Linked DNA regions of Homo sapiens. The protein of the gene in region 1 purifies or fractionates together with the protein of each later gene. This does not show direct contact. Each region holds a gene or a part of one and is shown in the gene's direction. Other genes may lie near its edges.

Evidence for each region.
Region 2: the proteins of COLQ (region 1) and PLOD2 purify together in Homo sapiens (affinity purification with mass spectrometry; 2 studies listed by BioGRID and IntAct, with this or other methods). This does not show direct contact.
Region 3: the proteins of COLQ (region 1) and P3H2 purify together in Homo sapiens (affinity purification with mass spectrometry; 2 studies listed by BioGRID and IntAct, with this or other methods). This does not show direct contact.
Region 4: the proteins of COLQ (region 1) and P4HA1 purify together in Homo sapiens (co-immunoprecipitation; 3 studies listed by BioGRID and IntAct, with this or other methods). This does not show direct contact.
Region 5: the proteins of COLQ (region 1) and TRIM68 purify together in Homo sapiens (co-immunoprecipitation; 3 studies listed by BioGRID and IntAct, with this or other methods). This does not show direct contact.
Region 6: the proteins of COLQ (region 1) and COLGALT1 purify together in Homo sapiens (co-immunoprecipitation; 2 studies listed by BioGRID and IntAct, with this or other methods). This does not show direct contact.
Region 7: the proteins of COLQ (region 1) and PLOD3 purify together in Homo sapiens (co-immunoprecipitation; 2 studies listed by BioGRID and IntAct, with this or other methods). This does not show direct contact.

What each region holds. Positions count from the first base shown.
Region 1 is NC_000003.12:15,473,207-15,476,706, reverse strand, and holds part of COLQ (acetylcholinesterase collagenic tail peptide isoform I precursor), read left to right. Parts: intron 1-1,219; coding exon 1,220-1,282; intron 1,283-1,755; coding exon 1,756-1,782; intron 1,783-2,434; coding exon 2,435-2,479; intron 2,480-2,671; coding exon 2,672-2,707; intron 2,708-3,500. UniProt on the Homo sapiens protein: Anchors the catalytic subunits of asymmetric AChE to the synaptic basal lamina.
Region 2 is NC_000003.12:146,071,563-146,074,184, reverse strand, and holds part of PLOD2 (procollagen-lysine,2-oxoglutarate 5-dioxygenase 2 isoform 1 precursor), read left to right. Parts: intron 1-832; coding exon 833-898; intron 899-1,519; coding exon 1,520-1,624; intron 1,625-2,622. UniProt on the Homo sapiens protein: Forms hydroxylysine residues in -Xaa-Lys-Gly- sequences in collagens. These hydroxylysines serve as sites of attachment for carbohydrate units and are essential for the stability of the intermolecular collagen cross-links.
Region 3 is NC_000003.12:189,956,898-189,960,397, reverse strand, and holds part of P3H2 (prolyl 3-hydroxylase 2 isoform a precursor), read left to right. Parts: intron 1-2,393; coding exon 2,394-2,486; 3' UTR 2,487-3,500. UniProt on the Homo sapiens protein: Prolyl 3-hydroxylase that catalyzes the post-translational formation of 3-hydroxyproline on collagens. Contributes to proline 3-hydroxylation of collagen COL4A1 and COL1A1 in tendons, the eye sclera and in the eye lens capsule.
Region 4 is NC_000010.11:73,090,367-73,093,866, reverse strand, and holds part of P4HA1 (prolyl 4-hydroxylase subunit alpha-1 isoform 2 precursor), read left to right. Parts: intron 1-3,500. UniProt on the Homo sapiens protein: Catalyzes the post-translational formation of 4-hydroxyproline in -Xaa-Pro-Gly- sequences in collagens and other proteins.
Region 5 is NC_000011.10:4,598,232-4,601,731, reverse strand, and holds the end of TRIM68 (E3 ubiquitin-protein ligase TRIM68), read left to right. Parts: intron 1-45; coding exon 46-68; intron 69-604; coding exon 605-705; intron 706-905; coding exon 906-1,456; 3' UTR 1,457-3,060; downstream 3,061-3,500. UniProt on the Homo sapiens protein: Functions as a ubiquitin E3 ligase. Acts as a coactivator of androgen receptor (AR) depending on its ubiquitin ligase activity.
Region 6 is NC_000019.10:17,565,649-17,569,148, forward strand, and holds part of COLGALT1 (procollagen galactosyltransferase 1 precursor), read left to right. Parts: intron 1-1,757; coding exon 1,758-1,892; intron 1,893-2,860; coding exon 2,861-3,065; intron 3,066-3,500. UniProt on the Homo sapiens protein: Beta-galactosyltransferase that transfers beta-galactose to hydroxylysine residues of type I collagen. By acting on collagen glycosylation, facilitates the formation of collagen triple helix. Also involved in the biosynthesis of collagen type IV.
Region 7 is NC_000007.14:101,211,082-101,214,581, reverse strand, and holds part of PLOD3 (multifunctional procollagen lysine hydroxylase and glycosyltransferase LH3 precursor), read left to right. Parts: intron 1-1,377; coding exon 1,378-1,475; intron 1,476-1,638; coding exon 1,639-1,740; intron 1,741-1,926; coding exon 1,927-2,052; intron 2,053-2,207; coding exon 2,208-2,329; intron 2,330-2,631; coding exon 2,632-2,736; intron 2,737-2,865; coding exon 2,866-2,991; intron 2,992-3,500. UniProt on the Homo sapiens protein: Multifunctional enzyme that catalyzes a series of essential post-translational modifications on Lys residues in procollagen. Plays a redundant role in catalyzing the formation of hydroxylysine residues in -Xaa-Lys-Gly- sequences in collagens.

The sequences.
Region 1 (3,500 bases):
AGGGATTGTCGAGTGCTGATGAAATCTCCTTCCTCAGTCAGGCTATGGAAAGCAAGCACATCCCCATCTGTGCCTCTGTTTTTCCCACTAGTAGTCATAGACTAGAGGGTTCAGAGGCGTGACTCAGAGTTTTATCTGCAGAAGTCAGAGCTGGGCAGGTGGATCTCACCATCTGCTCTGATTTGTTTACTGGCTATATTATAGCAGTGGAAAACTGTGTGTCCAGTCCTCTTAGGAAAAGTCCCAAAAGGATATTTTAAAAATCCTCTGCATACAGCTGAGCTGTCCTGCACAGCAGCCAGTAGCCACATGTGACCCTCAAGCCCGTGGAATGTTGCTAGTGCTACTGAGGAACTGAATTTTTAAATTTTAACTATTTGAATTAACCTTTACTAAATTCAGTTATTTGAAAATGTTAAAGTATGTTTGGAGCAACTTGAATGCATGAATCTGCTTTTTCAACTATAAATTTTATGATCTCTAAGTACAGATTAAATATTTTGGATGAAAATTTAGCACCTGAATGGAGATGTGTAAATGTAAATTACATAGCAGATTTCAAGTACTTATTATGAAAAGCACAATGTAAAATATCTCAATAATTTTTGTATAGATTACAAGTTGGGATGATTAATTAGATTAAAGGAGATCTATTAAAATTAACTTCATTCGTTTAGTTTTACTTTAAGGTGACTTCTTTTAAAAGTTTAAAATTAAGTATGTGGCTCACCTTATATTTCTATTGGTTAGTGCTGGTATAGAGTATTTTTAGTACAGAGGGTGGGTGCTGGAAGTCCCAACCACAAATCATTCTGAGGACCCTTCCTATGCAAAGAGCAAAGCAGGCAATGTTTTTTGCGTGTATTGACACCTTGTTTTCTGGGGCCCCAGTTCCGTCATGCCCCCTCCACTACTCTCTCACTATCCTCGCTAGGAAAATACCAAGTATTACCATATACAACATCTTAGTGAGCAGTTGGTGTGGGGATCTGCTTCACTTTGGGCGTTTTCATTTTATATTTAATCTTAAACACAAGAATGAAATGTGGAGTACGGAGTTTTGGGACCTCAGGAGGGAGAAAGTGGGTGCATCTGGGGTCCTCAGATTTACAAGCCAGCCCTGATATCCCCAGTTCCTTCCCAATCTTGCCTGTGACTTCCTGGTTCAGTTTCTCTAAAAAATATCACCGTGGGTCTTTTCTTCTTCTAATTCCCACAGGGTGAAAAAGGTGACCTGGGTATGATGGGCTTGCCAGGGTCAAGAGGACCAATGGGCTCCAAGGTCAGTGTGGGGTCCAAATGGACGTTCCCAGATCTCTGTCAGGCTCTGGAGCAGCTGCTGTCTACAAACATAGGGACTGGGTGGGGCTGCAGTCCCGGACTAGGGAATGTCGCGGATATTGGAGAGCCTGCCTTTACCAGCCCTTTGGAGAACATCATGCCCTGGGATGCAGGGGCATAGGGATGCCATTCCTGCTGTTCTCTTGGGCAGGAAGAACCAAGCTTCTGGACATCAGAGCAGATGGAAACCTTTGATCAGGACTTTGCAGAGTGATAAAAGCAATGTTCCTTTTAGGCCTGGTATAACCACAACCCTCTGGGACATCTTTGTGTTTGGTGCTGCAACCCCACTAAAACTCACAGTGCAATGTGGAGACATACCTTACCACCACATTCAGGGATTCCTTCTATTCTTCCACCAAACTCAGAAGTCCTACAGGGCTGATTGTAAATGTACCTTCTGCTTTCTTTTAGGGCTACCCTGGATCCAGAGGGGAAAAGGTTAGTGCTTTTCTTGGATGGTGTCCTAGAGCCTGGTCTGGGCTACTGGCTCTGGAATCAGAGACATGCAGAGAATGGGTCCAGGTCTCTCTTTAGTCTGCAACTGAAGCCACCATCCCTAGCTATTCCCCACCCTTTGTCAGTGGACTGAGAGAGAAGTGAGGGACCTCCTGAAGCAGGGCAAGCTGGTAAGAGAAGGGCTCCCCATAGAGGCAGAGGCCCCTCGTGTGGAGCACATAAGCAAATGAAGGCCGTGCCAGGTAGAGAATAAGCACAGTTTGCACAGAGTGCTGGAGGAAATTGGTGATGCATGTCTTTAGGCCAAGCTTTCACCACCACACAACCTTCTGACCTGGCCAAAAACCAAATCAAAACAGCATCAACCTGTGGACAAATTTCCTACAGGATGAGAGAGGATTTGGGGCCCAGAATTTTCCGTGAGTTGTCCTTTATGAATGCAAGAGGTCTTTGGGGTTCAACAAGAAGTAGATCACAAAGCATTCCTTCCCTGGAGAAGTCACCTGACATATCTGAGCCTATTTCTTCACTTGTAAAATGAGGGTTTTGGTTTAGGGAGCTTTTCAGTTTGAAATGCTTGAATTTCCCTCCCAGGATATTAACTCATTGACTTTCTCCTATGGTTTCTTCCTAGGGATCCAGAGGTGAAAAGGGTGACCTGGGTCCCAAAGGAGAAAAGGTAATGGAGAAAACCTTTCCATAGAAATGATAAATGTCAGTGCAAGTAGCAGCCCCCACCCACCCCCATCCGTGGACTGATGATGGACTGATGGACAGGCCTCCATCTTGAAAATGACCAACAAAGCCTGTCCACAGCCATTTCAGGTGTTATTTCAGAGGTGATCACAATTATTTGTTGCTCTTTTCACAGGGTTTCCCAGGATTTCCTGGAATGTTGGGGCAGAAAGTAAGTAACCTTGAGGTAGTGAAAATAGGCCTCAATAAAAATATCAGGTCCTCCAAGCACAACAAAAAGAACTCTGCCTCCTTGTCTATCAGGCAGGGATGGTGGGTTTAACCATGGAAACTTCTATTTTGGGACGGGAAGCAAGTTGCTTTTCACCCTGGGGAGAGGGTGGCAGGATGGTCTGGAGCCTCCCTCTAGCTCAATGGGAAGGAAAGGACAACCCATCTGGGTTTTGGGTTTTTGTTTGTTTGTTTGTTTTTTTGCTTTTTTGCTTTTCCTACCTCTTAGAGGGCTGTGGTCCTATTCAAATGCAGAAACCTTTCTCACAGGGGACTCAGATCTGAGCCACAACGGTCAAAGCCCCTGTCAGCACACAGGCCTCAGTGTAAGGCACAGGTGTCTTTAGCTTAAGGTCACTGTGCCTTATTGCAGTCCTTCTTCAAGGGCGGTGCACATACTGCCAGAAGGACACAAAAGTATTTGAACTGAAGACTGCTAACATTGTTTAAGAGTTAAATTTTGTATTTAAATAGTTAAATATTGGCCAGGCATGGTGCCTCATGCCTGTAATCCCAGCACTTTGGGAGGCCGAGGTGGGCAGATGGCTTGAACCCAGGAGTTCGAGACTAGCCTGGGCAACATGGTGAAATCCCATTTCTACCAAGAAAAATATACAAAACATTAGCTGGGCATGGTAGTTCGCACCTGTAGTGCCAGATACTTAGGAAGGTGAGGCGGGAGGGTGGCCTGAGCCCAGGAGTCAAAGCTGCGGTAAGCCATGATTGCACCACTG
Region 2 (2,622 bases), about 130 Mb from region 1:
ATAAAGAACTTGTCCCAATAAAATAATTCTTTAGCTTTTGTTGAAAAAAGTTGAGATATCTTTGTGTGTGGATTTTATGCCAGAGATTGGTCAAAAAGAATCAAATTCATGGATTAGAATAAAGAGAAACCATTTTTTAATATAGAGCCCTAACCCTTAATTTTAGTAACTGAAAGAAGTGCAAGTGCTAGTAAACTCATGATTATTCCTTGATAAATATTAATAACTGAAGTGAAGGCAGAAATTTTAAAAACTCATTTAAAAAATCAAATTTAGAGTAATTTACTATAGACATATAAGACAGACCCTAGTTAATTAGTTCACTAATTCATTTTTACAAATACTTGTTGGTAGAATTTTGCTCCTTGTCTTTTACCTTTAAGCACACCTTTATTTACCTACTCTGTGTATATATTAAAATACTGATGGTCCCCAACTTACGGTGGCTTTACTTAGGAATTTTCAGCTTTATGTTGGATTTATCGGGGTACTGTGTGTTTTTAACCTCCCACGGGTTTATTGGGACATAACCCCATCGTGAGTCAAGGAGCATCTGTAAAATGTGTAAATCTATTCACTGTAAGATTACTTAAGTTTTAAAATCCTGAGGTACAATATTTCATAAATAAAAATTTTGTATTTCATAGAATGACATAAGCATATTCAGAACCAGGCAAAGATTAGGCTATATACTGTGATTTCTGAAAATTACTATTTTGTCCACTATACATAATCATTTATAAGTTGAATAATTTCTAAAATGCATATGCTTTATACTTTTCAGTGAAGTATTTATAAAGATATTTGTTTTAATATGTACTTCTTTTTATAGGACTGGAAGGAAAAGTATATAAACCGTGATTATTCAAAGATTTTCACTGAAAATATAGTTGAACAGGTTTGTATTAATGATTACAAAGTATAGAAAATTTTGCTGTTATTTTCCAGAAGAAATATTATTAATACTACTTTCACAGAAGATGTGAAAGTGGAGAAACTACCTTTTAGGTAAAATTTATTTGATTCAATTACTGATTAAATAGCATTAAGGAACATACAGTTGTAAAATGTAGAACATAGAAATTAACATTTTAAAAGCATGCCTTTTTAAAAAGCATGCTCCTATGTGTCATAGCTTTCTGAAACCACTAAAAATAGAAACTGTTGACAGATCTCTGATGTAGAACTCTTGCAGTGAAAGCTTATCTTTGGAAGAAACTGGGCTGTCTTTCTGGAAGAGTCTTTTCTCAGAGACATCTTTGAAACATGAATTCTCTTTTAGCTTAGTGTTCAAAACTATTGTTAATACCTAATTTTTGAGAATGTAAGATGTCATCAATTCTGAGGTGCACCATTATTTATGTACCATGAGAAAAAAAATACTGTCAATAAACCATGACAGAAAACTATGTTTCCTAGTCATACAGGATTTTTTATTTTACACATATTAAAATAACTATTTTAGACTATTAAGACACAGAAGTTATTATGTCTTCTAACGATGATGCATATTTTATAGCCCTGTCCAGATGTCTTTTGGTTCCCCATATTTTCTGAAAAAGCCTGTGATGAATTGGTAGAAGAAATGGAACATTACGGCAAATGGTCTGGGGGAAAACATCATGTAAGTTGTAATTTCACACTAAGAACTAAAATGTATGTGGGGGTTAAGTAGATACTCAGAGAATTCGGAGGGGTTATATACTTTTTCTCATATGTCTCTGAGTTCTAGACTTAGATAAATTGGCTAGCCAAGGCTCTGATTTCAGTCTACTTCTCCCACCAACCAATTTTTTTAACACTTAAGTAATTTCATTAGTTTGGGCGGGTTTCTCATTTATGCATGTAATTACACTGGATGTTCCCTAAGGGTCGATGTCCTCAGGCCAGAGTTTGTTAGGTAACACATGTCTTTACAGAGTGATGTCACTCTTTTCCAAGGCCACTTTTTATTCCTTGCGTTTTCACAGTGAGCTGTGGTGAAAATTCTAAGGCAAATGTTATCTGGCTCTGAAAACTGTTTTTGTGTGTAAAGATAGGAAGGAGGGATCTGAGTGCCTTAGGTGTAATTCAGTTTTGCATTTGCATTCAGTGTCAAAGACTTGGCAGGAAATACTACTGCCAGTGGTTAGATGTGTTTCTTTCCCTCTGAGAACAGACATGCCATTTTAGCAGAATACTCTGGAATATTACTGCCTCTGCACGGTTATGTCCCCCAGGTAATGAGCTGATAAGGGAGAGGGAAGCTTAAAGTATAAGGAAGAACTTAAGTTAGTGGGTGATGAAATAATGAAAAGCAATCATTCAAAAACTTTTGAGTGTTACAAATAGAAGTGAGGAAGGGCGGGGAAAGCTTGTTTTTAGTGTTTGGTAATACAGACAGCAGATATGCTAAGTGTATGCTCATCAAGCAGCTGAGACTGCCTAAAGGGTCACTGTAAAAAAAGACTCATTTTTAAGAAAGGATGTGAGGGCTTAGGAAGTCAATTTTATTTACTTTATAGCTAAACTTCACATATACATTTAAGAAGTAGGAAAGGAGTCTACTGACCTTACATTACTTTGTTTCGTCATTGTATCATTGACAAAGCTGTTACCTAAGTTATTTTGATAATTTTACAG
Region 3 (3,500 bases), about 170 Mb from region 1:
CAGTAGTGACCAAGAAGATAAGATGCCCTGCTCTTCTGGAGCTTACATTCTAGTGGAAGGAAACAGATCCCAAAAAAGTAAAAAATAAATAAATAATCGAGAGATTTTTCACACGGTGACCAATGATGTGTGGAAAATGGAACAAGACAACTGATTCTGGAGTGAAAGGGTAGGAGCGGCAAATTGTGAGGCCTCGCCAAACAAGTGGCATGTGAGCTGAAACCTAATAAATTAGAAGTCCACTAGGATAAATGTCTGGAGGAGAGTATTCCAGGCAGAGGACAAGCTGCAAAGGCCCAGAGACAATAAGATGTTTGGAGTCACCAAGAAACAAAGAAAGCCAGAGCATCTGGAATATGGCAGACAAGAGGGAGAGTGGCTTCAGTAGAGGACGTGGAGGCGGCAGGAGTCGGATTCCACAGGCTGATTGGGAAATGCGAATTGTATTCTAACTAGTGGAAAGTCATGTAGTCCCCACACCCCAACACACACACACACACACACACACACACACACACACACACACACACACACACATATCTCCTCCAGTCCTGGAGAGTTACAGGATACAGAAGATTACTTTAGCTAACATGTGGTCTTGGACTGGAGTAGTAATAGAGAAGGTAAAAAGAGATGGAAGATTTGAGATACAATTTGGAGGTAGACCAGCTGCACCTGCTGATGGATTAATGTGAGGAATAAAAGAAAGCGTAGAATATAATGGGAGCATCCAGAGAAACACTTAATTCAGAATCGGATTAGGGAATTCTTTTGAAAGTGTTACATTCAGGGAGCTTGAGGTAAGTTAAGAAGTTGGAATATAAGGTGAGGAGAAGGGAGGCAAAATAAACCTAAAGAAGAGAGAAAGGTATGAATAAGAAGAGAGAACAAACACCACATATTCTCACTCATAGGTGGGAATTGAACAATGAGAACACATGGACACAGGAAGGGGAATATCACACTCTGGGGACTGTTGTGGGGTGGGGGGAGGGGGGAGGGATAGCATTGGGAGATATACCTAATGCTAGATGACGAGTTAGTGGGTGCAGCGCACCAGCATGGCACATGTATACATATGTAACTAACCTGCACATTGTGCACATGTACCCTAAAACTTAAAGTATAATAATAAAAAATAAATAAATAAATAAAAGAAAAAAAAAAGAAGAGACAGGTGTAAAGCAACTTCTTATAAGCACACCAAGAAAAGTAGACCTGAAACTTCAAGCAGTAGGGACCCATTGAAGAGCTGTGAGTAGGAAAGAGATATAATCAGATATAAGCCAGTAGGATTCATTAGAAGCATGTGAGGGTGAGTAGTGAAACAGCGAGAGCAATTTGGAGGCTGCGGCAGTAATTAAGAGATGATGAGGGCTTACAATGGTGGCTCTCAAGAGGGAGCGATTGGCCGGGTGCAGTGGCTCACTCCTGTAATCCCAGCACTTTGGGAGGGCGAGGCGGGTGGATCACCTGAGGTCGGGAGTTTGAGACCAAGCCTGGTCAACATGGTAAAAATATAAAAAATTAGCCGGGCATGGTGGTGAGCGCCTGTAAACCCAGGTACTTGGGAGGCTGAGGCAGGAGAATCGCTTGAACCCGGGAGGCAGAGGTTGCAGTGAGCCGAGATCGCGTCACTGGACTCCAGCCTGGGCAACAAGAGCAAAATTCCATCTCAAAAAAAAAAAAAAAAAAAAAGAGGGAGCAATGTTGCCCTCTAGTGGACATTTGGCAATATCTGGGGGTTGGTGGGGGAGGTTGTTACTGACACCTGTGGTAGGTAGAGAGGACGGGGTGTCGCTGAGCATCCTGCAGGGCACAGGGCAGCACCACCCTCCCACCCCCCAACAAATAATTATCTGGTCTAAAAATGTCAATCAGACCAAAATTGAGAAACCCTGACCTAAACTCCGGCAACAATAGTGCATTGAGGAGAAAGGGGCAGAGACAGCAGATAGAACAGAATAGGTGACTTATCAGATGCAGGAAACCATGGTCGGGCTTTTAAGGCAAATAGGTGAGCGATGTTGGTCTTTACCGAGAGAGAGCCTACGTGAAGAACAGAGCAGGTTCTTGGGGAGAAAATGGTGAATTCAGCTTGACCACTGAACTGAGTTGGAGATGGCTATGGGGCCATGAATTAGAAAGAGTAGGAAGCAGTTGAACATACAGTCGTTCTTTGCAGGAGAGAAAATCTTAGAAAGTAATTGCTTAGGACCCAGGAATGTTAGGAGAAGGCATCTGTCTGGGGATGAAGAGGAGGTGTTCAATGCTTAACTGGATATAGCATCAACCCATGTACAGATGGATGCCAGGAAGTGTTTGGGAAGCGTCTGCTGATGAGACTGATTATTATGCTTGTAACAGAAATGTGTAAATTGTCTTTTTTGCAGGAGCGAATACAGGCTGATGAAGTGATTGCAATTCTGGATCAAGAACAGCAAGGGAAGCATGAACTGAATATCAACCCTAAAGATGAGCTATAAAAATGAGAAAGAATGTTCTATCAAATATTTATTTAAATTGTTAATCTTATGAGAACCTTTTTATTTTTGTACAGAGCCATGGTATAAATTAACAGGTTAATGTCAGTCATCAGATCTTCCTTCTCTTCCTAAGGATGCTTGTGTTGCCTCAATCTATCAATCTATCTTTCTTGTTTTGGGTTGTTTTCTCTCTCTCTCTCTCTCTCTCTCTTCTTAGAGACATGGTCTAACCATGTTGTCTAGGATATAGGGCAGTGGCTATTCACAGATGTGATGATAGCACACTGGAGCCTCAAACTCTTAGGCTCAGGCGATCCTTCAAGCCTCCCGGGGAGCTGGGACCACAGGCACGTGCCACCACACCCAGCTCTCTTTCTTGGTTTTTCATCATTTCATGTATCTATCAAAGCCCAGTTCACCTCCTCCCCCAAACACACACACACACACACACACACACACACACACACACAATTAAGTTGCTGCAAATTCAAAAGCTTAGAGAGAATAAGCTTCTTGGTGGTGAAACTACAACTCTCACGTGTGCTCCAGTTCTAAAATTAACCTGTGCCTGGTCTCTGAAGCCCTTTCTTGCTCTGTGCCTTTCAGCCACATCCTTAGGTGCTAACGGCCATGAGCTCCGACTCTCCAAAGTGAGCTCCACTTTGGGTCTGAGGAGCCCCTGGCAGAGTCCACGCTGCCTCAGGTATCATGGGCGTAATGATCACCCAGGCTCCGGGAGATCTCATGGATGATTACTGTATGAGACAGAGGGGACTTCAGTCTTTCCAGGGCCTTGGTGGAATTTTTGGCTCTGGTGTTTTCGCCAGACAATAAACTTACACTGGAAGCTTTGATTCACCCTCCACAGTACTCCAGAAAGGACTGTCCTATAAGTTGTACACTTTAAAAGGTCATGTAGAGGTTGTAGTAGAATGGCTTTTCACCCTGGTGACTTTGGAAGAAACTCTTGAATACTGCCTGCATCCGGGCACCATGGCCAGGTTGCCTAGGAGT
Region 4 (3,500 bases), on another chromosome or scaffold:
TTTTTTTTTTTTTTTTTTTTTTTTGAGATGGAGTTTCACTCTGCCACCCAGGCTGGAGTGCAGTGGTGCAATCTCGGCCCACTGCAAGCTCCACCTCCCGGGTTCACGCCATTCTCCTGCCTAAGCCTCCCGAGTAGCTGGGACTACAGCCGCCCACCATCACGCCCAGCTAATTTTTTGTATTTTTAGTAGAGACGGGGTTACACCGTGTTAACCAGGATGGTCTCGATCTCTTTACCTCGTGATCTGCCCGCCTTGGCCTCCCAAAGTGCTGGGATTACAGGTGTGATCACGCCACCGTGCCCGGCCAAAGCTTTGTGTTTCTATTCAAGAAAATTTATTTGTATAAATTGAAGCTGTCCTGTCATTAGGACAGCTTCAGTTTCTCTAGTTGAATAAGTATTGTACCTAAAGAAAAGCTTTGGCAATTCAAAAGGACTCTCATTTAGGTTACTCCAGCAGTTTTTAAACTCGGTGTGGTGAAAAACATTCTTTTTCCTGGTCTTCCTTTGGATGATCAGTATGACTGTTAGTATATTTGATTTGACATTTGCTAAAAATACATTATAGAGATTCAGACTTCTTACCTAGTTGTCATCAGTGAATGAGTTCTATATTGGGCCTTTCTCTTCCTCATGTTTAGTGTTTCATAAAAATGTGTCCATATTACTCATTTCTTTCTTAAATAGTAATATTATGTGGAATTAGTACACTCAGCCTTACTCTCTCTTTTTTTTTTTTTTTTAAGAGATAGGATCTTGCTCTGTTGCCCAGGATGGAGTGCAGTGGTGTGACCATAGCTCACTGCAGCCTTGAACTCCTGGGCTCAAGCAATCCTTCTGCCTCAGCCTCCGGGTGTAGCTCGGGGTACAGATGCATGCCACCATGTCTAGCTAATTTTTTAATTTTTTGTAGAGATGGGATCTTGCTCTGTTGACCAGGCTAGTCTCGAACTCCTGGCCTCAAGTGATTCTCCCATCTGCCCCACAAAGTGTTGGGATTATAGGTGTGAGCCACCATGCCTGGTCATCCTTACTCTCTTGTTGGACACTTGAGCTGTTTCTCCATTATAAGTAGTGCAAAGAGAGGACTGTAATTTAGTGGTTTATTTTATCAACCTGTATAATTACAGTAAACTTTAACCAATTTTTTAATTTTTAAATTTATATTTAAATTTTTTTTTTTTTAGAGACAGGGCCTTACTATGTTGCCCAGGCATGGTGGCTCACACCTGTAATCACAGCACTTTGGAAGGCCGAGGCAGGAGGATCACTTGAGGCCAGGAGTTCAAGACCAGCCTGGTCAGCATAGTGAGACCCCATCTCTCTACAAAAAAAATTTTTTTTTAATTAAGGGGGCATGAGGTTGCATGCATCTGTAGTCTAACTACTTGGGAGGCTGAGGTGGGAGGGTCGCTTGAGCCCAAGAGTTGGAAGCTGCAGTGAGCTATGATAGCACCATTGCACTCTAGCCTGGGTGAGAGTGCAAGACCCTGTCTCTAAAAAAAAAAAAAAAAAAAAGAAAAGAAAAAAAAATTATTTACAATATGGCCAGTAGACTGTAGGAAAATCAAGAATGATGAGAAATGTTTCATAGGAGAAGTAGGACATAAAAATTACATGATATAGCACCATGTGGCTAACATTTTACTAGATATTAAATCTGTAGCACTGAATGGAAATGCATATCTAGATTCACATCCTCTACAACCATGAATTCATTTTTCCCTGTTCTAGTATACATGGTCTTATTTTGTCTCTCTTTACCTCAACTTGAGAAATTTGGATCTGGCATTAGAGTAAACAGATAATTGAAGACTAGAAAGAGGTAGACTGGGTGGAAATAAAAGTGGAATTTTGACAGAATAGCCTTGGGAGGGATGAAGCTGAGTATACCTGGGCCTCAGAGCAATAATCCATTTTTTAGGAGGAAAGGGACTGCTAAAGCCAGCTTTTGAGTATTCTACTCTGACCTGAGTGGCCTTGGTCTGAATAGCTCATGTTCAGAGATAAGAGTATATTTAACTTTTTTGTACTAAGAATAGTATTTGAGTAATGTTATAGGTACATATGAGAATTTGGCCTTCATCTCTGCCGAGTCAGTTAAACACAAGTTTCTCTAGATATTTCCATTACAAGAATCAAAGCTCTTTGATTTTTGGAACTTCAGTAAAACCCAAGAATGAATAGCCGAGAACTATCATACAAGTCATAAAATTAAAAGGCATTGAACAGTGTATGAAGCATCAGATATCCTGTTACATGTGTCTGCAACAATAAATTAAATATTGATTAACTGATTTTAAGTAGGCTCAAGACTTCTCTTACAGTTCTAATCTTATATTAACTAGATTTGCATATCTAATTTCTCCAAAAATATGATCAAGAAATGTTTATTTTAGTCTAGGCGTGGTGGCTCACATCTGTAATCCCAGTGCTTTGGGAGGCTGAGGTGGGAAGATCTCTGGAGCCCAGGAGTTCAAGGCTGCTGTGAGCTCTGATTGTTCCACTCCACTCCAGCCTGGGTGACAGAGCCAGACCCTGTCTCAAAAAAACAAAAAAAGTTGGTATTTCTAAAACCTACTGGTTGAATTTAGGACCTCAAAATGTTACTTGTGTGTGTGACCTTTGTTCTTGCCCTATGGTTCTGACAACCTTCCTCCTTTTTATTTATTTATTTATTTATTTATTTATTTTTTTGGTAAACTCAGGCAACATATTCATAGTCAAAGGTTACATGAAGACATTCTCAAATTTACATGATTTCAAAATTTAGTTACTTCTTTTTTTTTTTTTTTTTTTTTTTTGAGATGGACTCTCACTCTGTCACCCAGGCTGGAGTGCAGTGGCGCAATCTCGGTTCACGGCAACCTCTGCCTCCTGGGTTCAAGCAATTCTCTGCCTCAGCCTCCCGAGTAGCTGGGATTACAGGCACCCGCCACCACGCCCGACTACTTTTTTGTATTTTTAGTAGAGACAGGGTGTCACCATCTTGGCCGGGCGGGTCTCGAACTCCTGACCGGGGGTGATCCATCAGCCTCGGCCTCCCAAAGTGCTGGGATTACAGGCATGAGCCACCGCACCTGGCCTGCAGTTACTTCCTTTAACCTCAAAGATATTTTGAAAATAGACCTCAATTTACTATGCCTGAATTTAAAAAACCTTAATATTGTATTTGAAAATAGTGAATAGTGACCATTGCCACCAAGTAGAGTGATAGTAATAAGTAAAACACTAATCTTTGATATAAGGGTGATTACTAATAAATTGAATAAACTGATATATTTTAACGACTTTATTGAGCAAAATTGACAGGACAAATTGCATATATTTACAGTGTACAATTTGATAAATTTGACAAAAATATCTACTTAAAAAAATATCAGTACAATCAAGATAAGGAACATATCCATCACCTTCAAGAGTATCCTCAAGGTCAGGCACAGTGGCTTAGGCCTGTAATCCCAACCCTTTGGGTGGCCGAGGCAGGAGGACTGCTTG
Region 5 (3,500 bases), on another chromosome or scaffold:
GGAATAGCACTTACTCAGATGCTGCATTTTTTTTTCTCCTTCCAGGATATTCAGGAAGTGTTAAACAGGTATGTTCTCACCCTTGGAGCCTCTAAGCAGCCCTGTAGGGGATAGTGAGGCCTAACTAGAGCCAGAAGTAGGGACGGAGCACAGACTCGGTGCACACAGAAAAGCAGGTGCTGGTCCACAGTCTCGTCCCACTTACATGGTAATGGCTAAGGAATCTTTGTTGATCTTTCCTTTTTCTTCTTTGTACTTGATCAAATGTATATCAAGTGAAGCTGTAAAATATGTGGTTTCAAGTAGATTGCTCAAAGAGGATAAAAGACTGCCCATGACTCCTTCATGTCCGACAGAAAATGTGTGCACTTCTTCCTCTCCCAGAATCAAATATACATCCAACCCTTCCCATAGCATGGGCATGCAGGTGTTCTCACCTCTGCACACAAACAGCTTGAGGCTCAGCCAAATAACCGTAACCATCATGTCTCTGCTTTGCTGGGGTTCACTATGTCCCTGGCCAAGCCCCTCTTCCCTGTACTAAGATAAGGCCCATGTGACAAAGCCGGGACTCCTGGCCCTGAGGTTCACCCTCCTCTACCAGGAGCAAATCTTGGAGCTTGCAGCAGCCAGAACCAATCTCCCTGGAGTTGAAGACAGATTGCCGTGTGCTGGGGCTAAGAGAGATCCTGAAGACTTATGCAGGTAATGGATCCTGGGGGAGACTGTAGTGGACAGTGGGAGGGACCCCTCCCAGAGATAGAAAATGGTTCAGTGCCCTCTGGGTGCTCCATCCAGCCTCACCCCTTCATCATTGAGAAATCTGTGGCTGAATTTATCAGAGGGCTCTCACCCATGTCCCCTGGCCCTATATCACTGTTACCAACCAGGACCTTTTCTTCTAGCTGATGTGCGCTTGGATCCAGATACTGCTTACTCCCGTCTCATCGTGTCTGAGGACAGAAAACGTGTGCACTATGGAGACACCAACCAGAAACTGCCAGACAATCCTGAGAGATTTTACCGCTATAATATCGTCCTGGGAAGCCAGTGCATCTCCTCAGGCCGGCACTACTGGGAGGTGGAGGTGGGAGACAGGTCTGAGTGGGGCCTGGGAGTATGTAAGCAAAATGTAGACCGGAAGGAGGTGGTCTACTTATCCCCCCACTATGGATTCTGGGTGATAAGGCTGAGGAAGGGAAATGAGTACCGAGCAGGCACCGATGAGTACCCAATCCTGTCCTTGCCGGTCCCTCCTCGCCGGGTGGGAATCTTCGTGGATTATGAGGCCCATGACATTTCTTTCTACAATGTGACTGACTGTGGCTCCCACATCTTCACTTTCCCCCGCTATCCCTTCCCTGGGCGCCTCCTGCCCTATTTTAGTCCTTGCTACAGCATTGGAACCAACAACACTGCTCCTCTGGCCATCTGCTCCCTGGATGGGGAGGACTAAGAAAGCTACCACCCTAACCAGAGAGGCTTGGAATTGGGCCTGGCCCCCATGGGGCTTGGAGGACCGAGCCACTGACAGGTATCCCCTGAAACTGAGCTGAGCCCAGTATCCAAGGATTCCTCTGTCTGATCCTTTGGTCTTTGCTACCAGGCTGAAGTCTGTCATGAAACCACTTATTTTAAAAAGCAGAGGCCCAGTCAAATGAGCATTGCATCCCATGAGGGAAGCACGACAGGGCTGATGGTGAGGATCAGAGCAGTTCTAAGGTGACTCGTTGGGGTAAGGATCAGGACTTTGTCCATGTAGTAGCCAACCACCCTCTTCCCTGATTCCCGTCCGGTGTCACAGTTCAGTCAGTGAGGATGATGAAGTAGATACAGTCTTCAGGACACCATTAGATGGGCTTTCCCAATAGGCCAAAAAAATGCTGCGCATACCCAGAGCTGGTTGTTGTGCTGAGGCCAGTCAGAGGATGCTTCCCCTGAGGTTTGCTATAACTAAGCAACCTTTATGTGACTCTCACCTTCTGACCTCCTGGCAAGAGAAATTCAGTGCAGCAGGGGGACACAGACCTGCCCAAGCCACCCCACTGCCGTTCCCTCTCTGAGCACAAGCTGGGCAAATCACTGTCCCTTGGACTCCAGGAGACCAGTGTCCTAGTCTTGCCTTTTTTCTCTAAGTGGCAGGATCAGAAAACCTGCGAGCTTTAGTTTGTATTTTCACTTTATGAATGAGGAAACTGAAATGGCCTTAAGGGAGCAAGTTATTTCTTTTTTTTTGACACGGAGTCTCACTCTGTTGCCCAGGCTGGAGTGCAGTGGCACGATCTCGGCTCACTGCAGGCTCTGCCTCCTGGGTTCACGCCATTCTCCTGCCTCAGCTTCCCGAGTAGCTGGGACTACAGGCGCCCACCACGACGCCTGGCTCATTTTTTTGTATTTTTAGTAGAGACGGAGTTTCACCATGTTAGCTAGGATGGTCTCGATCTCCTGACCTCATGATCCGCCCTCCTCAGCCTCCCACAGTGCTGGGATTAGAGGCATGAGCCACTGCGCCCGGCCCCTGGAGCAAGTTATTTCTTACAAAGCTGCTGAAGGTAAGATTATCAAAATTATAAAGCATTTTTCACACTCAAGTGAAACAAGGTTGACAAACTCACTTCGCAGGTCACATGCCTATACATCACTTATTATATTTGGGTCTGAAACTTCTCACATGTTTGGGAGGTTTTATGTGTCCTCATTGGGAAAATGGGTGTAATTCAGCATAAAACCTCATATGATTGTCCTGCCTCATGGAGCTGTTGTATAGATCCCAGATCCATCCCATGATTTGTTCCTGTCTGAGGCATAGAGGCAGGCAAGCCGTGGATTTTGCACATGGTGACTTTCCCACTGTGCCATGATACAGTCTGCATCTTATAGCAGTGCCTTTGTCTCAGGGCCTCTGCTGGCAGTCTAGACCTTTTGGGCAGAAAGGAGCTTCAAATGGCTGTGATAAGGAATATTAAAAATTGTGTTTCTACTTTAATTGTATTGGCTGTTCATGTATGTAGGAGTTAAAATAGGCCAAACTGGAGAAATAAACGCATTCTGTCCACCATGCTTCCAGACTGCTTCTTGAGAATCAGTAGTAGAAGGGGAGAAGTTTCCATCAGCTGCCTGGAGGGGAATGAGCTAGTGAGGCACAGACCCTGGTGCTGGCCAAGGGTTGAGCCTGCCTCAATTAGAGGAGCATCTTTGTCAGGGGATTCCCTGGGGGTAACTGAGAAGTAGGTCCCTAGGAAGGACTTCAGTTCTGTCTGTGGACAATTGGGACAAAAGGGTTAAGGGAAAATCAATGTTGTTCTTTGGCTATTAAGACAAATCTTGGAAGGTTCCTAGAAACGGAGGATTGTTAGCTGATAAATTCATTCGAACTTAGAATGAAGGAAGGAATGAAATGGCCTCATTTGTAATGTACTCTTTTTGGTTGGTTTGATTGTTTTTTACATTTATAAGCCTGTTTGGGTACTCTGATTACTTGTTAGAAGACTCGTAAGGTT
Region 6 (3,500 bases), on another chromosome or scaffold:
GACTGAGCAAGACTCTGTCTCAAAAACAAACAAACAAACAAAGAAGCTGTTTGAGTCCTTTCTTTCAATTCTCTTGGTTCATACCTAGGAATGGAATTCCTGGATCATGTAGTAATTCTATGTTTAGCTTTTTGAGGAACTGCCACAGTGATCTGGCTGTTTGTTCTGCATTAATATTCAAAGGTCACAGATTCAAACATCCAGAGGGACCGGATGGGGTGTGTAACATGACCACAGGGCTTGTCCTAAGACCCAGCCACCTCCCCTCTGCAACTGAAGGTTGCCATGTGGAAATGGTATTCTCACGTTGCCAGGGGATACTGGAATTCTAGTTTTTGTTGTTGTTCATGGCAGTTAATCCAAATATTCTAAACGATACTGCCTGGGTAACAGAAAGCATCTCTGTGGACCAGCAGTAAAAGAAAAAAAATCCAGACCGGGCACAATGGCTCACACCTGTAATCCCAGCACTTTGGGAGGCCGAGGCAGGCGTATCACTTGAAATCAAGAGTTCGAGACCAGCCTGGCCAACCTGGTGAAACCCCATCTCTACCAAAAAATACAAAAATTAGCCTGACGTGGTGGCATGTGTCTGTAATCCCAGCTACTTGGGAGACTCAGGGAGAATTGCTTGAACATGGGAGGTGGAGGTTGCAGTGAGCCGAGATCACGCCGCTGCACTCCAGCCTATGCAACAGGAGACGCCATCTCAAAAAAACAAAAACAAAAACAAAAAACCTTCTGGTAGTTCTGTGATATATCATGACTTCTGTGTCTTTACATCCTGGTAGAGGGGGAACGTCCGGACCTAATCATTTTCTATGTGTGATTTTATATATATATATTTAATTTTAGTCTAGGTGCAGTGGCTCAGACCTGTAATCTCAGAACTATTGTAGGCCATGGGGAGGATCGCTTTGAGCCCAGGAGTTCAAAACCACCCTAGGCAATGTAGAGGGATCCTATCTCTACAAACATAAAAATAAAAATGAAAACATTATCTAGGCATGGTGACGTGTGCCTGTACGCTCAGCTACTTGAGAGGCTGAGATGAGAGGATCACTTGAGCCCAGAAACTCCAGGCTGCAGTGGGCTACGATTACACCATTGCACTTCAGCCTGAGTGACACAGCAAGATGCTATCCCTTTAAAAAATAAAAAATGAAGAAAAAGTAAAATAGTAGGCCAGGCATGGTGGCTCATGCCTGTAATCCCAGCACTTTGAGAGGCCGAGGTGGACGAATCACATGAGGTCAGGAGTTTAAAACCAGCCTGGCCAACATGATGGTACCCTGTCTCTATTAAAAATACAAAAAGTTACCCGGGTGTGATGGTGCACGGCTGTAGTCGCAGCTACTCGGGAGGCTGAGACAGGAGAATCGCTTGAACCCAGGAGGCGGAGGTTGCAGCGAGCTGAGACCATACCACTGCACTCCAGCCTGGGTGACAGAGCGAGACTCCGTCTCAAAAAAAAAAAGGTTTTGCTACCTTCTTGCTCATTGGTTGTTCATTTATTTCTCAGGGCTATCTCAGTGCCTAGAATTTTCTTTGAAGGAACTGAAGACCTTTGCTTTATTTCCATGATCCAGGGGATCCTGCAGGCCCCCAAAACGGGGTCCCTGCTTCATTTCATCCGGTGTAGGGGGTGCTTCCAGAGGTCTTTGCCAGACCCCCAGGGCACTGGCCTTTGCCCCAGCTGTTCTGAATGGTAGCCTGACCTGGCAGCCCATGCTGATGCTTTGTGGGGTGTTCTGCAGTTTGTAGATGCGGACAACCTGATCCTCAACCCTGACACACTGAGCCTGCTCATCGCTGAGAACAAGACGGTGGTCGCCCCCATGCTGGATTCCCGGGCTGCGTACTCCAACTTCTGGTGTGGAATGACTTCCCAGGTAGAGTGAGGGCCTGGGGACTGTGGGGACTGGGCTGAGCAGGGGGGTGCCGTGGCTAGAGTGTAACTTACTGTCACACAACCTCGTGGTGTGTGTTTTACAAAAATCATCATGGAAGCTGGGCACGGTGGCTCACACCTGTAACCCCAGCACTTTGGGAGACTGCGGCAGGCGGGTTGCCTGAGCTCAGGAGTTTGAGACCATCCTGGGCAACATGGTGAAACCCCATCTCTACTAAAAAAAAAAAAAATTACAGAAATTAGCCGGGTATGGTGGCACATGCCTGTCCTCCCAGCTGCTCGGGAGGCTGAAGCATGAGAATCACTTGAACCCAGGAGGCGGAAGTTGCAGTGAGCCGAGATCACGCCACTGCACTCCAGCCTGGGTGACGGAGTGAGACTTGGTCTCAAAAACAAAACAAAACAAAAACTCATTATGGTAATCTTTAAACAGCCCTCTGAGGCCAGACAGGAGGGAAGAATAGAGGGTCCTTGATTGTCCCCCACCATGCTATTCCAGAGGTGGAAACAGAAACACAGAGAGGAAGTGACTTGCCTAAAGTCACACAGCTAGCAAGTGGTGGTGTCAGGATGGGACTTCAGGCATGGCTTGATCCAGGTGTTTGGATAACTGTCTTTCTCCATCCTTTGGGTGGGTTCATTCTCAGACAGCTTGAGAGTGATCCCAGCAGCGTCTAGCCATCATCCATTCTGATTGGGCCATTGCTAGTCTCCTCTCCACACTACCTCTGAACTCATTACTGAAGCTGGGAAAATACAAGGCTCTTTCTTATTGGCCATGCCTGGCCACAGGTCCCACACTGGGCTTGAGTCTGGGGTCCTGGGACCACAGGCGCACACTGCTGTGCCTGGCTGTCTGTCTGGTCCTGTTTCATGCCGCCCACTATCACGGGTCTCCATCCTCACCTTTCAAGACCCCTACGCGGAACTCTCGCTCTCTCCCCACAGGGCTACTACAAGCGCACACCTGCCTACATCCCTATCCGCAAGCGAGACCGCCGGGGCTGCTTTGCAGTTCCCATGGTGCACTCGACCTTCCTGATCGACCTGCGGAAGGCGGCGTCCAGGAACCTGGCCTTCTACCCACCTCACCCTGACTACACCTGGTCCTTTGACGACATCATCGTCTTTGCCTTCTCCTGCAAGCAGGCAGGTACGTACATGAGGGGTCTGCCATCGCAGGGGCATCTGCCTGGTTCTTTGGGTTTTGCACTAAGCCAGTTCAGAACACACTGAAGATTCACAGAACCCAAACAATGCAGCGCAGGGCTGACTTCAGGTGCAGCTGTATCTAGGTGTTCAGATAATGTCTCCAGGACCCCGTTTCTCTCCAGCCCTGGCTTTGCTGGTTAGCTTCATTCCCTAGCTCTTTAAGATCTATTGGTTGGTCAGGCAGAGTGGCTTATGCCTGTAATCCCAACAATTTGGCAGGCTAAGGCGGGTGGATCATTTGAGGTCAGGAGTTTGAGACCAGCCTGGCCAACATGGTGAAACCCCATCTCTACTAAAAATACAAAAATTAGCCGGACGTGGTGGTGCTACTGGGGAGGCTGAGGCGGGAGGATCACTTGAATATGGGAGGCGGAAG
Region 7 (3,500 bases), on another chromosome or scaffold:
ACAGGCATGAGCCACTGTGCCCGGTCTACTTCTGTGATTCCATTTAACAAAGGGAAGGTCCCTGGTTATCCTTCTTGTACAGATGAGGAAAACAGCTTGTGGAGGGGTTGGTGACTTGCCTCAGGGGATGGGGAGAACGGGGAGAGAGAGAGGCCAGGCACGGTGCCTCACGCCTGTAATCCCAACATTTTGGGAGGCCCAGGCAGGAGGATCACTTGAGGTCAGGAGTTTGAGACCAGCCTGGCCAACATGGCGAAAACCCGTCTCTACTAAAAAAAAGTACAAAAATGAGCTGGGCGTGGTGGCGGGTGCCTGTAATCCCAGCTATTCAGAAGGCTGAGGCAGGAGAATCACTGGAACCCGGGAGGCAGAGCTTGCAGTGAGCCGAGATTGCGCCACTGCACTCCTGCCTGGGTGACAGAGTGAGATTCCTTCTCAAAAAAAAAAAAGGCCAGGTGCGACAGCTCACATCTGTAATCCCAGCACTTTGGAAGGCTGAGGCGGGCAGATCATGAAGTCAGAAGTTTGAGACCAGCCTGGCTGACATAGTGAAACCCAGTCTCTACTAAATATACAAAAATTAGGCTGGGTGTGGTGGCTCATGCTTGTAATCCTAGCACTTTGGGAGGCCGAGGCAGGTGGATCACCTGAGGTCAGGAGTTCAAGGCCAGCCTGGTCGACATGGTGAAACCCTGTCTCTACTAAAAACACAAAAATTAGCCGGGCATGGTGGTGCGCGCCTGTAATCCTGGCTACCCGGGAGGCTGAGGAAGGAGAATCGCTTGAACCCTGGAGGTGGAAGTTGCAATGAGCCAAGATCGTGCCACTGCACTCCAGCCTGCGTGTTGGGAGTGAGACTCCATCTCAGCATAAAAAACAAAAAATACAAATACAAAAATTAGCCAGGTGTAGTGGCATGTGCCCATAGTCTCAGCTACCTGAAAGGCTGAGGCAAGAGAATCTTTTGAACTCAGGAGGCAGAGGTTGCAGTGAGCCGAGACCACGCCATTGCACTCCAGCCTGGGTGACAGAGTGAGACTCCATCTCAAAAAATAAAAATAAAAAAAAAAAAAAACAAGGAGAGAGAGAATATGAGGAGGGGTAGGGATGCTGAGGCTCCTACTGGCCTCCCGCTCAGCTCACCCTCCCCTTCCTCGCCCAGCTGCGGTGTGATCACGCAGGTAGTAGGCAGTGGAGCTCTCTGGGCCAGCAGCCTGGTCAGAACCCAAAGGTTCCTGCCCACAACGAGCCACACTCCAGGATAGCCCTGGTGTCCCTTTATTCCCTGGAGAATTTGGGACCCCATATTTAGAAGAATGTGTTGCTTGGTAGCTCCCAGAGAAAGGGGGTCTGAAGCCTGGCCTTTTTCTTCCCCAGATGAAGTGGTTTTAAAGTTTGATCGGAACCGTGTGCGTATCCGGAACGTGGCCTACGACACGCTCCCCATTGTGGTCCATGGAAACGGTCCCACTAAGGTGCCACCAGTGGTCTCAACCCCCGCCCCGCCCTGCCCCAACCCCCAGGCACCTCCAACCCTTCTGAGAAGCTGGCCCTTCCCAGCCCCCATATCAGAGGTGCCTGACCCCCACCTCCACCCCTGGAGGCCTCAGCCACTCAGCCTCAGTCTGTCCCCAACAGCTGCAGCTCAACTACCTGGGAAACTACGTCCCCAATGGCTGGACTCCTGAGGGAGGCTGTGGCTTCTGCAACCAGGACCGGAGGACACTCCCGGGGGGGCAGGTGAGGTGGGGGTGCCAGGGAGGGGCACGAGAGGGCAGCGTGCTGAGCAGGAGGTACAAGGACAGCGGACTGGGGGGCGGTGGGGGCATCGCTCCTGGGTCCCTGCACCTGTCAGGGTGGAGGTTGGGTGGGGGCAGCAGGGAAGTCCGGGCTTCTCTCTGAGTCCCTGCGTGTTGCATCTTCCAGCCTCCCCCCCGGGTGTTTCTGGCCGTGTTTGTGGAACAGCCTACTCCGTTTCTGCCCCGCTTCCTGCAGCGGCTGCTACTCCTGGACTATCCCCCCGACAGGGTCACCCTTTTCCTGCACAACAACGTGAGACTCCCCTGTTGGAGCCTCTCCTGAGGGACCCTTTCCCTGCCCTGATCAGAACTCTCGTGCCCCCACCCCCATCTCCTTCCTGCACCCCCATCCCTCAGGTGCCGCCTCCCTGCCCTCTGAGCCCATCCCCCTATGTCTTCCCCTCCCAGGAGGTCTTCCATGAACCCCACATCGCTGACTCCTGGCCGCAGCTCCAGGACCACTTCTCAGCTGTGAAGCTCGTGGGGCCGGAGGAGGCTCTGAGCCCAGGCGAGGCCAGGGACATGGCCATGTGAGCGGGTGCTTGCGGGGAGGAGAGGGTGGGATGAGGCTGTAGGGTCAGGGGTGCTGCCACCTGCTGCCTGGCCCTTGCCTCACCTGTCACCCATCCAGCCCCTCCTGGGCCTCCCCATTCGCATCCTTGCAGCCCCCATGCTGTCACTCCTGCCCTTGCCAGCTCACCCAGACAGCAGAGAGCCTGGGGAAGGAAGGATAGACACTGCCTCCCTCCTCTTCTCCTGGGGGCATGGGCCAGTTACCCCATCCACACCGCCTCCCCACCTGCCGCCGTCTCAGCTCGCCTCTCACCTCCAGGGACCTGTGTCGGCAGGACCCCGAGTGTGAGTTCTACTTCAGCCTGGACGCCGACGCTGTCCTCACCAACCTGCAGACCCTGCGTATCCTCATTGAGGAGAACAGGTGGCTTACCCCCTCTCCCCGCAGCCGGAGGGCACCCCAACAGGCCCCGGGAACCCCACTCCTGCCCTGGGCACCGGGCTCCCCAGGCCTGCTCCCGTCTGCCCAGCCCTCACCCCCACCTGTCCGCAGGAAGGTGATCGCCCCCATGCTGTCCCGCCACGGCAAGCTGTGGTCCAACTTCTGGGGCGCCCTGAGCCCCGATGAGTACTACGCCCGCTCCGAGGACTACGTGGAGCTGGTGCAGCGGAAGCGAGTGTGAGTCCCGCCAGCCTGCAGCCCCCCGCCTCCTCCGACCCGGGGCCCAGGTAGACCCAAGCCCCCTACTCTCAGGGGTTTGGAGTGGTCACCAGTCAGAGGTGCCATGAGGCTGGCTGCAGTGGCTCACACTTTTGATGCCACCACTTTGGGAGGCTGAGGTAGGAGGACTGCTTGAGCCTGGGAGTTTAAGATCAGCCTGAGCAACGTAGCAAGAGCCTATCTCTACAAAAAACTTAAAATATTAGCTGGGCACGGTGGTGCGTGCCTGTGGTCCCAGCTACTACGGAGGCTGAGGTGGGAGAATCACTTGAACTTGGGAGGTTGAGGCTGCAGTGAGCCATGTTTCCACCACTGCACTCCAGCCTGGAAACAGAGGGAGACCCTTTCTCAAGAAAATAAAAAACAAGGGCCGGCCGCGGTGGCTGACGCCTGTAATCCCAGCACTTTGGAAGGCAGAGGCAGGTGGATTACTCGAGGTCAGGAGTTCGAGACCAGCCTGGCCAACA